Homo sapiens: one gene and its partners. The protein of the gene in region 3 interacts with the protein of the main gene of each other region in a biochemical or structural test. Each region holds a gene or a part of one and is shown on either strand. Other genes may lie near its edges.

What was found.
Region 1: the proteins of MSH4 (region 3) and RAD51 form a complex in vitro, tested with the Homo sapiens proteins (one study listed by BioGRID).
Region 2: the proteins of MSH4 (region 3) and EIF3F form a complex in vitro, tested with the Homo sapiens proteins (one study listed by BioGRID).

What each region holds. Positions count from the first base shown.
Region 1 is NC_000015.10:40,698,152-40,701,811, reverse strand, and holds part of RAD51 (DNA repair protein RAD51 homolog 1), read right to left. Parts: intron 3,056-3,660; coding exon of another isoform or gene 3,054-3,055; coding exon 2,967-3,053; intron 749-2,966; coding exon 611-748; intron 7-610; coding exon of another isoform or gene 1-6.
Region 2 is NC_000011.10:7,999,845-8,002,512, forward strand, and holds the end of EIF3F (eukaryotic translation initiation factor 3 subunit F), read left to right. Parts: 3' UTR 1-2,008; downstream 2,009-2,668. UniProt on the Homo sapiens protein: Component of the eukaryotic translation initiation factor 3 (eIF-3) complex, which is required for several steps in the initiation of protein synthesis.
Region 3 is NC_000001.11:75,817,237-75,820,896, reverse strand, and holds part of MSH4 (mutS protein homolog 4), read right to left. Parts: intron 1-3,660. UniProt on the Homo sapiens protein: Involved in meiotic recombination. Required for reciprocal recombination and proper segregation of homologous chromosomes at meiosis.

The DNA of each region.
Region 1 (3,660 bases), on a different chromosome or scaffold from region 3:
CTCCGTCTCAAAAAAAAAAAAAAAAAAAAAAAAAATCTGCTTTATACTACATAAAACTTCAAGGGTAAAGGCAATAAAACTGTGTAACTATATAAACACTGAAGAAATAGGTTCATAAAACAAAATGTAACCATGGGGAAGTATGTATGTTAAAGAACTATATGAAGCTAGAAAAATAAATAGGCCAGGCACAGTAGCTCACACCTATAATCCAGCACTTTGGGAGGCTGAGGTAGGTGAATCGCCTGAGCTCAGGAGTTCGAGACTACCCCGGCATGGTGGCATGTGCCTGTAGTGTAGTCCCAGCTACTTGGGAGGCTGAGGTGAGAGGATCGCTTGAGCTTGGGAGGTGAAGGTTGCAGTGAGCTGAGATGGCACCACTGCACTCCACCCTGTGTGACAGAGCGAGAACCCGTCTCCAAAAAAAAAAAAAAAGAAAGAAAAAAAAAAGAAAAGAAAAGAAAAGAAGAAAAGAAACAGGTAACAGTCACCCCTGGAAAGGATAATGAGATGACCGAAGAATAAGAGATAGAAGGAAGAAGTCTTTCACTACATTCCCTTTTGTACTATTCCCACTAATGCCTCCCTAGGTTAAGTAAGCAGTACTTACCAGAATTTTATCAGCTTTGGCTTCACTAATTCCCTTAATATTTATTAGCTCCTTCTTTGGCGCATAGGCAACAGCCTCCACAGTATGGAATCCAGCTTCTTCCAATTTCTTCACATCGTTGGCATTTATGCCACACTGCTGCAAATGAAGAAAACCATGGATAAATTTAAGCTTTAGTTCTCTAATCTAACACAGATGTTATGTGTCCTACATACTTCACAGAGGTGCTTGAAGACTTGTAATACAACTGTCCCTTGAAATCCTTGGGGGGGCGGGGGGAGATGGGAAGTTGGTTCCAGGACCCCCAGCAGATAACAAAATCCAACAATGCTCAAGTCCCTTATATAAAATGGCGTATTACCTGCATATAACCTATGTACATCCTCCTGTATACTTTTTTTTGATATGTAGTTGATTGAATTTTTGATACGTAGTTTGTTGAATTTGCTGATACAGAATCCGGAGATACAGAGAGCCTACTGTTATTATATGCAAAAGCTGAAAAATGAGCCCTATATATGAGGTACTTAATAACAAATTAACAACCTTTTCATTATCAAAATCAATAATTTTAAACTAGCACTAAGCCATGTACATTAAAAAGAACTCCTATTAGCAATTGGAATTAAAAAGTAACTCCCAACCTTTTTTTGTGACCCTAAATGATCTCTGAGACCTTGGGCCCTACAAGACCACTTTAAGACAGTGTTGCTCAACACTTTCCACATCAAGCACACATAAAAAACTGTATTTTTACACTATGGTAGGGTAAATAGATAAGGCTGCTCAGAATATAAAGAGCACTATCTTGGCCTGTCAATACTTTTTGTTGAACAATGACCAGAAAGCTCTGCTCTAACAACTGACATTAACAGTGAGGAAAACTACTTTTTGTCAGGGACTTTTATACCTCTTCTCAAAACAAACCACCCAAAGACACCTCTTTCTTCCTATATTCAAGTCAGCTTTGGTTTCATTAGCCACCAAAACCATGACTTCTGGGAAAACATGAGTTAGTAGGTGAATGTGGGTGCATTCAGGGGTTGGGAGAATTTAGAAGAGGGGAGAGATTAGTTTGCCAACATAAGCCATGTCTGCTATTAATATTTAAGCAATATGCATGTTTGAGTATAAGGATGCTCATGGCACCAGAAGTTATGACTCTGAACTTTCAAATGTTTATCACAAATCCATTTAAGTAACTTCTAGAGTCTTTTTTTTTTATTAGCCTTTTGCACTCCTAACTTCTAGAGTCTTGAAGATTAGTCAGAGATGGGAAATATGAAAAAAAGAGACAGAAGAATCAAGTCTTTCTCTGCTTTCCTCCTACTTAGCCCAAATCAGCTGCACTCACAGGGCAGTCTCTATACAATGGGCAGAAATAGTGTAAGGCCTCAGCTCTGGTGCTTAATGTTCTTGTGCAGAATCCTGAATTGGAGCTTGTCTCTTATACCATAACACCACCACACCCTTCTCTCTGCCAATGACAGCTGACAGCACAAATCTAGGTTAATGGAGAGAAGGTGCTTCCCTGTCTTCCTTGCATAACTGGTCCAGGCCGCTATAATTCCCAGAACAGCACTTTCATACTTAGTGCAAATAGCACAGGATGCTTTGGCCAGGCATGGTGGCTCATGCCTGTAATCCTAGCAGTTTGGGACGCCAAGGCAGGTGGACTGCTTGAGGCCAGGAGTTCAAGATCAACATGGTCAACACAGTTAAGACCCATTTCTTAAAAAACAAACAAAAAAACAGCACAGGCTGGGCGCAGTGGCCCATGCCTGTAATCCCAGCACTTTGGGAGGCCAAAGAGGGTGGATCACCTGAGGTCAGGAGTTCGAGACTAGCCTGACCAACATGGAGAAACCCTGTCTCTACTAAAAATATAAAATTAGCTGGGTGTGGTGGCTCATGCCTGTAATTCCAGCTACTTGGGAGGCTGAGGCAGGAGAATCGCTTGAACCTGGGACGCAGAGGTTGCGGTGAGCCGAGATCACGCCATTGCACTCCAGCCTGGGCAACAAGAGCGAAACTCCATCAAAAACAAACAAACAAACAAACAAAAACAGCACAGAGATTCCACCATGGGATCCTAGGCCTTAGTTTCTGACAGTCCAACTCTCAGAAATAAAAATGATAAAGTAGGAAGAGAATTGTTGACAAAGGAAGAGGCCCTGCCAGACATATTTAGCAATGATCTGCAGCCTTTCCACAGGATTATTGACAACACTTCTGAAAAGTCTAATTTGGGTCTTGACCTTGGTAGTAAACCTATATTTTATGTAAAGGTTGTAATACCTTCCACTAGGTAGAAGAATCTAGTATATAATTCCAAAATTAGCAACTAACCACATACCTCTAACCGTGAAATGGGTTGTGGGCCAAAGCTTTCTTCTTCCACTGAAGTATCTGCATTTGCTTCAAGCTGCATCTGCATTGCCATTACTGAAAAATACAAATGCTTATCAGTATAAACACTAGAGAAATAAGGTGCATCTCTCTCCCCATCTTCTATCTAGCTAGTCGTATCAAAAAGACTTTAGGAAAAGCCAAGGCCATTCTCTTATTGTGCCTCTCTGTTCTCCTGCTTTATATTCCTTCAGTGTAGGGGCCAAGTTTTACTTATTTTTATATACCCCATTATACATTATAAATGTGTTTGCAGACAAATACTGCATGATCTCACTCATATGTAGAATCTAAAAAAGTTGATCTTGGCGGGGCGCGGTGGCTCATGCCTGTGATCCCAGCACTTTGGGAGGCCGAGGCGGGCAGATCACCAGGTCAGGAGATCAAGACCATCCCGGCCAACATGCGAAACCCCGTCCCTACTAAAAATACAAATATTAGCAGGGTGTGGTGGCACACGCCTGTAGTCCCAGCTACTCGGGAGGCTGAGGCAGGTAAATGGCTTCAACCCGGAAGACAGAGATCGCAGTGAGCCGAGATCGTGCCACTGTACTCCAGCCTCATGACAGAGTGAGACTGTGTCTCAAAAAAAAAAACAAAAAAAAAAAAGTTCATCTCATACAAGGAACAAATAGAACAGT
Region 2 (2,668 bases), on a different chromosome or scaffold from region 3:
TACTTCCACGTTCACTGAAGCATTGTTCACAATCGCCAAGACATCAACCTAAGTGTCCATCAACAGAAGATAGATAGGGCTGAGCGCGGTGGCCCACGCCTGTAATCCCAGCACTTTGGGAGGCCAAGGCAGGTGGATCATTTGAGGTCAGAAGTTCTTGACCAGCCTGGCCAACATGATGAAACCCCGTCTCTACAAAAGATACAAAAATTAGCCAGGCATCTTGGAGGGCGCCTGTAATCCCACCTACTCGGGCTGAAGTGAGAATGGCTTGAACCCAGGAAGTGGAGATTTCAGTGAGCTGAGATTCCGCCACTGCAGTCCAGCCTGAGCGACAAGAGTGAGAAGAGTGAGACTTCATCTCAAAAAAAAAAAAGGTACATCTACACAATGGAATATTATTAACCTTAAAAGAAGGAAATAACTGATTTACAACAACATGGATGGACCTGGAGGACACTATGCTAGTGAAATAAGCCATGATCTCACTTGGATATGGAATCACAAAATTGAACTCACAAGCAGAGTGTAGAAAGGTGGTTTCATGGACTGGAGGGAGGGGATAAATGGGGAGATGTTGGTCAAGGGTACAAAGTTTCAGTTAAACAGGAGTAGTACGTTCCGGAGACCTGTTGTGCAGCAGGGTGACTAGTTAATGTATACTTGAAAATTGCTAGGAGTAGATCTCACCAGGAGAAATGAATATGTGAGGTGATGGATGTAACTAGCTTGATTGTGGTAATCAATTTCGCAATGTGTACATATATCAAAACATCACATTGTACAAAATACATACAGTTTTTGTCAATTTAAAGATATCAGAATTCTAGAATATGATAAAGTTGTGTTTTCAAGCAAGTAAAGATAGATTACTTAAGAGCGAATGAGTGGTAATTTGGAAACAATGTTGGATTCCTACTTCGTTACCTGCACCAAAATAAGTTGCTCATGGAATAAAAACTTGTCTGAAAAAAAAACCATAAATATGAGGGAAAAAACACAGCAATGTGTTTTTAATGATTTATGAGTGAGGAAGAACTTTCTAAGAACTGAGAATCCAGGAGTTATTTTAAAAGACTGACAAATTTAGCAACATTTTTAAAATCTGAGTGTCAAATTACACACATACACAAATAGTCAATACAAATATAAAACTGGGAAAATATTTGCAGTTCATATCAAAAAAAGGGCTAATATTCTTGTCCCAGAATTCCTACAGTTTTTTAAGGCCAGTAATTTGATACATTAGTGTGTAAAGGATATGACCAGACAGCTCACACACAGACACACAAATGTGAAAAGATGCTTGATCTCACTGATAAAGCATAAATTAAAACGATGTCATTTTTAAAAATCAGATTCGCAAATTTTAAAAGTTGCTAACACTGGAATGGCCAGAGTAAGAGGAAACGTGACACAGGCACAGATTGCTGGTAGACATATAAGTTGGTACAGCCCTCTCTATGTAATTTTGTGTTTGTCAAAATTACAAATATGCATGCCCTTAACCCAGGAATTCCACTCCTCATTATATATCCTACAAATAAACTGGTCTCGTTATGACACAATGTAATGAATACATAGATAAGTACTGAAATACTTGGTTATCATAGCGTAAAGATGGTAATCAACCCAAATGACTATTACCAGAATAGAAATTAAACAAAGTATGATATATCCATAAAACACAATACTATGCAGCTGTTAAGCAGAATGAGACAGTCCTCTATATATCAATATGGATAAAGAGTAAGTGAAAAAAGCCAGGAGAGAATGTTGTCTATAATATGCTGTTGTTGTGTACGGGAAAATAAATAATATAAATACCTAGAATATTTGTGAAGGTACAGCCAAGAAACTACTATCACTGATTGTCTTAAGGTACTAGATGGGGCACAGGACAGGACGAAAGATTTACTTCTTATTGTTTCTTCTGTATAACTTTTGAATTTTATGCTGTTAATGTAATTTTTCAAAAAAATATATAAAAATATAAAAACATGAAAAACATGAAACAATACCTTATATTTTTACATATACTATAAAAAGTAGGAAATATTGGGAGGCCGAGGTGGGCAGATCACCTGAGGTCAGGAGTTTGAGACCAGCCTGACCAACATGGAGAAACCCCATCTCTACTAAAAATACAAAAATTAGCCAGGTGTGGTGGCGCATGCCTGTACTCTCAGCTACTTGGGAGGCTGAGGCAGGAGAATCGTTTGAACCCAGGAGGTGGAGGTTGCGGTGAGCCAAGATCACGCCACTGCACTCCAGCCTGGGCAACAAGGGCAAAACTCCGTCTCAAAAAAAAAGTAGGAAACATGCGAAAAATGATAAAATCAAATTTAAGATACTACTTCTGGAGAGTAAAAGAGGAAGAGAGGGAACAGTATTGGCAAGGGATGCAGACGTGGTTTCAATTATATCTGTAATGGCTTTCCTTTAAAAAATAAGATATGGCCAGGAGCAGTGGTGCACACCTGTAGTCCCAGAGACTGGGGAGGCTGAGGACGGAGGATCCTTTGAGCCCAGGAGTTCAAGGCTGTGGTGCACAATGTTTACGCCTGTGAATAGCCACTGCACTCCAACCTAGGCCACTTAGCAAGACCCTGTCTATAAAAAATAAGATATGAAGTAAATATGACGTAATATTAAGTACATAAGTACT
Region 3 (3,660 bases):
ATCTGGGTGCTCCTGTATTGGGTGCATATATATTTAGGATAGTTAGCTCTTCTTGTTGAATTGATCCCTTTACCATTATGTAATGGCCTTCTTTGTCTCTTTTGATCTTTGTTGTGAATCCAGGAGCTGGTTTTTTGAAAAGATAAACAAAATTGATAGACCACTAGCAAGACTAATAAAGAAGAAAAGAGAGAAGAATCAAATAGATGCAATAAAAAATGATAAAGGGGATATCACCACTGATCCCACAGAAATACAAACTACCATCAGAGAATACTATAAACACCTCTATGCAAATAAACTAGAAAATCTAGAAGAAATGGATAAATTCCTGGAGACATACACCCTCCCAAGACTAAACCAGGAAGAAGTTGAATCTCTGAATAGACCAATAACAGGCTCTGAAATTGAGGCAATAATTAATAGCTTACCAACCAAAAAATGTCCAGGACCAGATGGATTCACAGCCAAATTCTACCAGAGATACAAGGAGGAGCTGGTACCATTCCTTCTGAAACTATTCCAATCAACAGAAAAAGAGGGAATCCTCCCTAACTCATTTTATGAGGATATATTTTGAACAAGCTCCCATATATGCTATTGGTCAATGAACTACACTTTAACAAGGATGAATAGAATCTCCTTGCACTTTATGACTTCTTTTATAGATCAGTTACAATATTCACACTAATATAAAGTTTTCTAGTCTATTTATTCCATCCATAATAGCAAGATATTAATAATATATCCTTAAGGGTGGAGGGGCTTTTATATTGTTAAAATAAATATTTACTATAATGATCTTGTTCTGATGACAAGTACAAGACAATTTCATAATTCCTAGGTGATTTATAAAGAAATGAGCTATTCTAAAGAATGCTGGTCAGTCAAGGTGGCGCATGCCTGTATTCCCAGCACTTTGGGAGGCAGAGGCAGGTGGATCACTTGAGGTTAGGAGTTCAAGACCAGCCTGGCCAACATGGTGAAACCCCATCTCTACTGAAAAAAAAATACAAAAATTAGCCAGGTATAGTGGCAGGCACCTGTAATCCCAGCTTCTCAGGAGGCTGAGCCATAAGAATCACTTGAACCCGGGAGGCGGAGGTTGCAGTGAGCCGAGATTGCGCCACTGCACTCCAGCCTGGGCTACAAAGTGAGACTCTGTCTAAAACAAACAAAAACAAAGAAACAAAAAAATTCATTTAGTTGGACTATTTATTAGACAACTTCATATAATACATGTAAAAAATCTGATTCATTTTAATATTTAACAAATACTTTTTGAGCCCTTATGGTATTCAAAACTCTATGCTAAACACTGGGCATATAAGACGGACATGATTCCTGTCTTCACAGACCTTACAGCCTAATGGCGATTGCCAATAACTTTTTATTTATTTATTTATTTAGACAGAGTCTTGCTCTGTTGCGCAGGCTGGAGTACAGCAGCACTATCTAGGCTCACTGCTACCTCTGCCTCCAGGGTTCAAGTGATTCTCATGCCTCAGCCTCCTGAGTAGCTGGGATTACAGGTGTGCCACTATGCTGGCTAAATTTTGTATTTTTGGTAAAGACAGGGTTTCACCATGGCGACCAGGCTGGTCTCAAACTCCTGGCCTCAAGTGATCCACCCACGTTGGCCTGCCCAGGGTGCTGGGATTACAGGCATGAGCCACCGCACTTAGCCATTGACAATAACTTTTGTCAGTTTACTGGCCGTGACTGAAGACAAGACAAAGAGCGAGGGGAAATAAACAATAAAAACAATAAACACATAATCATATCAAGAAAATAATTTTAGGTACAGAAACAGCTAAAAAAAACAAAAACAGGCCGGGCACGGTGGCTTACACCCGTAATCCCAGCACTTTAGGAGGCCGAGGCGGGTGGATCATGAGGTCAGGAGATCGAGACCGTCCTGGCTAACACAGTGAGACCCCGTCCCTACTAAAAATACAAAAAAAAAATTAGCTGGGCATGGTGGTGGGTGCCTGTAGTCCCAGCTACTTGGGAGGCTGAGGCAGGAGAATGGCGTGAACCCTGGAGGCAGAGCTTGCAGTGAGCCAAGATTGCACCACTGCACTCCAGCCTGGTCAACAGAGTGAGACTCCATCTCAAAACAAAAAACAAACAAACAAAAAAAACGGAATATACAGAGAAGGACCAGGGTGGTTGCTTTAGTTAGGTTGATTAAGAAAGACTTCCCTATGAATTTGATAGTAGAGTTGAGAACTGAATGATTAAAAAAGAAGGCAGCAATGCAAAGATGACGATGGGATGGGAATCATGACAACAATAATGAGGACAGCTAACATAAAATGATACTTAGTATGTACCCACAATTGTTCTAAGCATTTTAAAAGTATTAACTTGTTTAATTCTAATAACCATGTTATGAGATAGGCACTATTATTGGCCACATCATTTTACAACAGAAGTAACTTAAGAACAAGGAAATTAGGTAACTTGTCCAAGATTTCCAAGTAAGTAGCATAGCAGCAATTTAAGCCCAGGAAGTCTGGCTCCAGAACAAAAAAGAAGATCAAGGTTAGTGGAGCTTTGCAAGTGGGGGTAAGAATAGAGAGAGATGAATGAAGAAGTTGATAGAGGCCAGGACATAGAAGTCCTTATAGGCCAAAGAGTCTGGATTCTATTGTAAATGTAAGGAGAGCCACTGGAAGGTTTTCAGCAGAAGAGTTACAAGATCTGATTTCTGGATTAAAAGGATATCACAGTATGACTACTATTAATATGTTGAGAATAAACTATAGGAAGGTAAGAAGAGGGCAGAAAGAAAAGCTAGGAGGCTATTATAGTAGTCTATGCTAAAGATGATAGAGGTTTGGGTTAGGGTAGTAGCCTTGGAAATGGTGACAAGTGATCCAGAACTGGTATATACTCTGAAGGCTAGATCAAGAGGATTTTCTGATGGATCAAATCTGAGGTGTGAAAGGAGAGGAAACAAGAATGACTTTTAAGATTTAGTCATCATTCTACCAGATTTCTGTCATACCCATTTAAACTAATTTGTAGGGAACTACTCATATCAACTGGCTAGGGGGAGGGGGGGTGTCTCCCATCACATGTACATTTTTTTTTTTTGAGAACTTATTTCTAAAAGGAGGTAAGGGGCACACATAAACCTCCCATTTGTTATAGAAATCAATGGATGTAATACTGCACTGAACAGGCAGCAAGCCTATGGAAGCATTGGAGCTATTCAGATAGTTCAGTACGTAGAATATCCATCTTTTAACCTGAGGATTCTTTCATTTAAGTCTGTGAAAAGACTTTTCAATTGTTCCTTTCAACTATAATACTAACTCCTGGAGATCAGATATTCTATCATTTAAGTATCTGTATCCCTAATATATAGCAGGAAGTCAAACAATGTTTGACAATGATAAAGTGTGAAACATGACAAGGTAAAACTGAATATAAAACACTTTGTAATAACTACCAGGCTTGGTCATTGACTTTCTATGCCATGATAACATAGGATATCATAGAAAGTCAAAGACAGAGTAATTTTAACCTATAACCTAATGGATGTGAAGTGGTATCTAACTGCGGTTTTGATTTGTAGTTCCCTAATGACTAGTAAAGTTGAGCATCTTTTCTGGTACTTACTGGCCATTTGTTTACCTTCTTTGTGAAAAT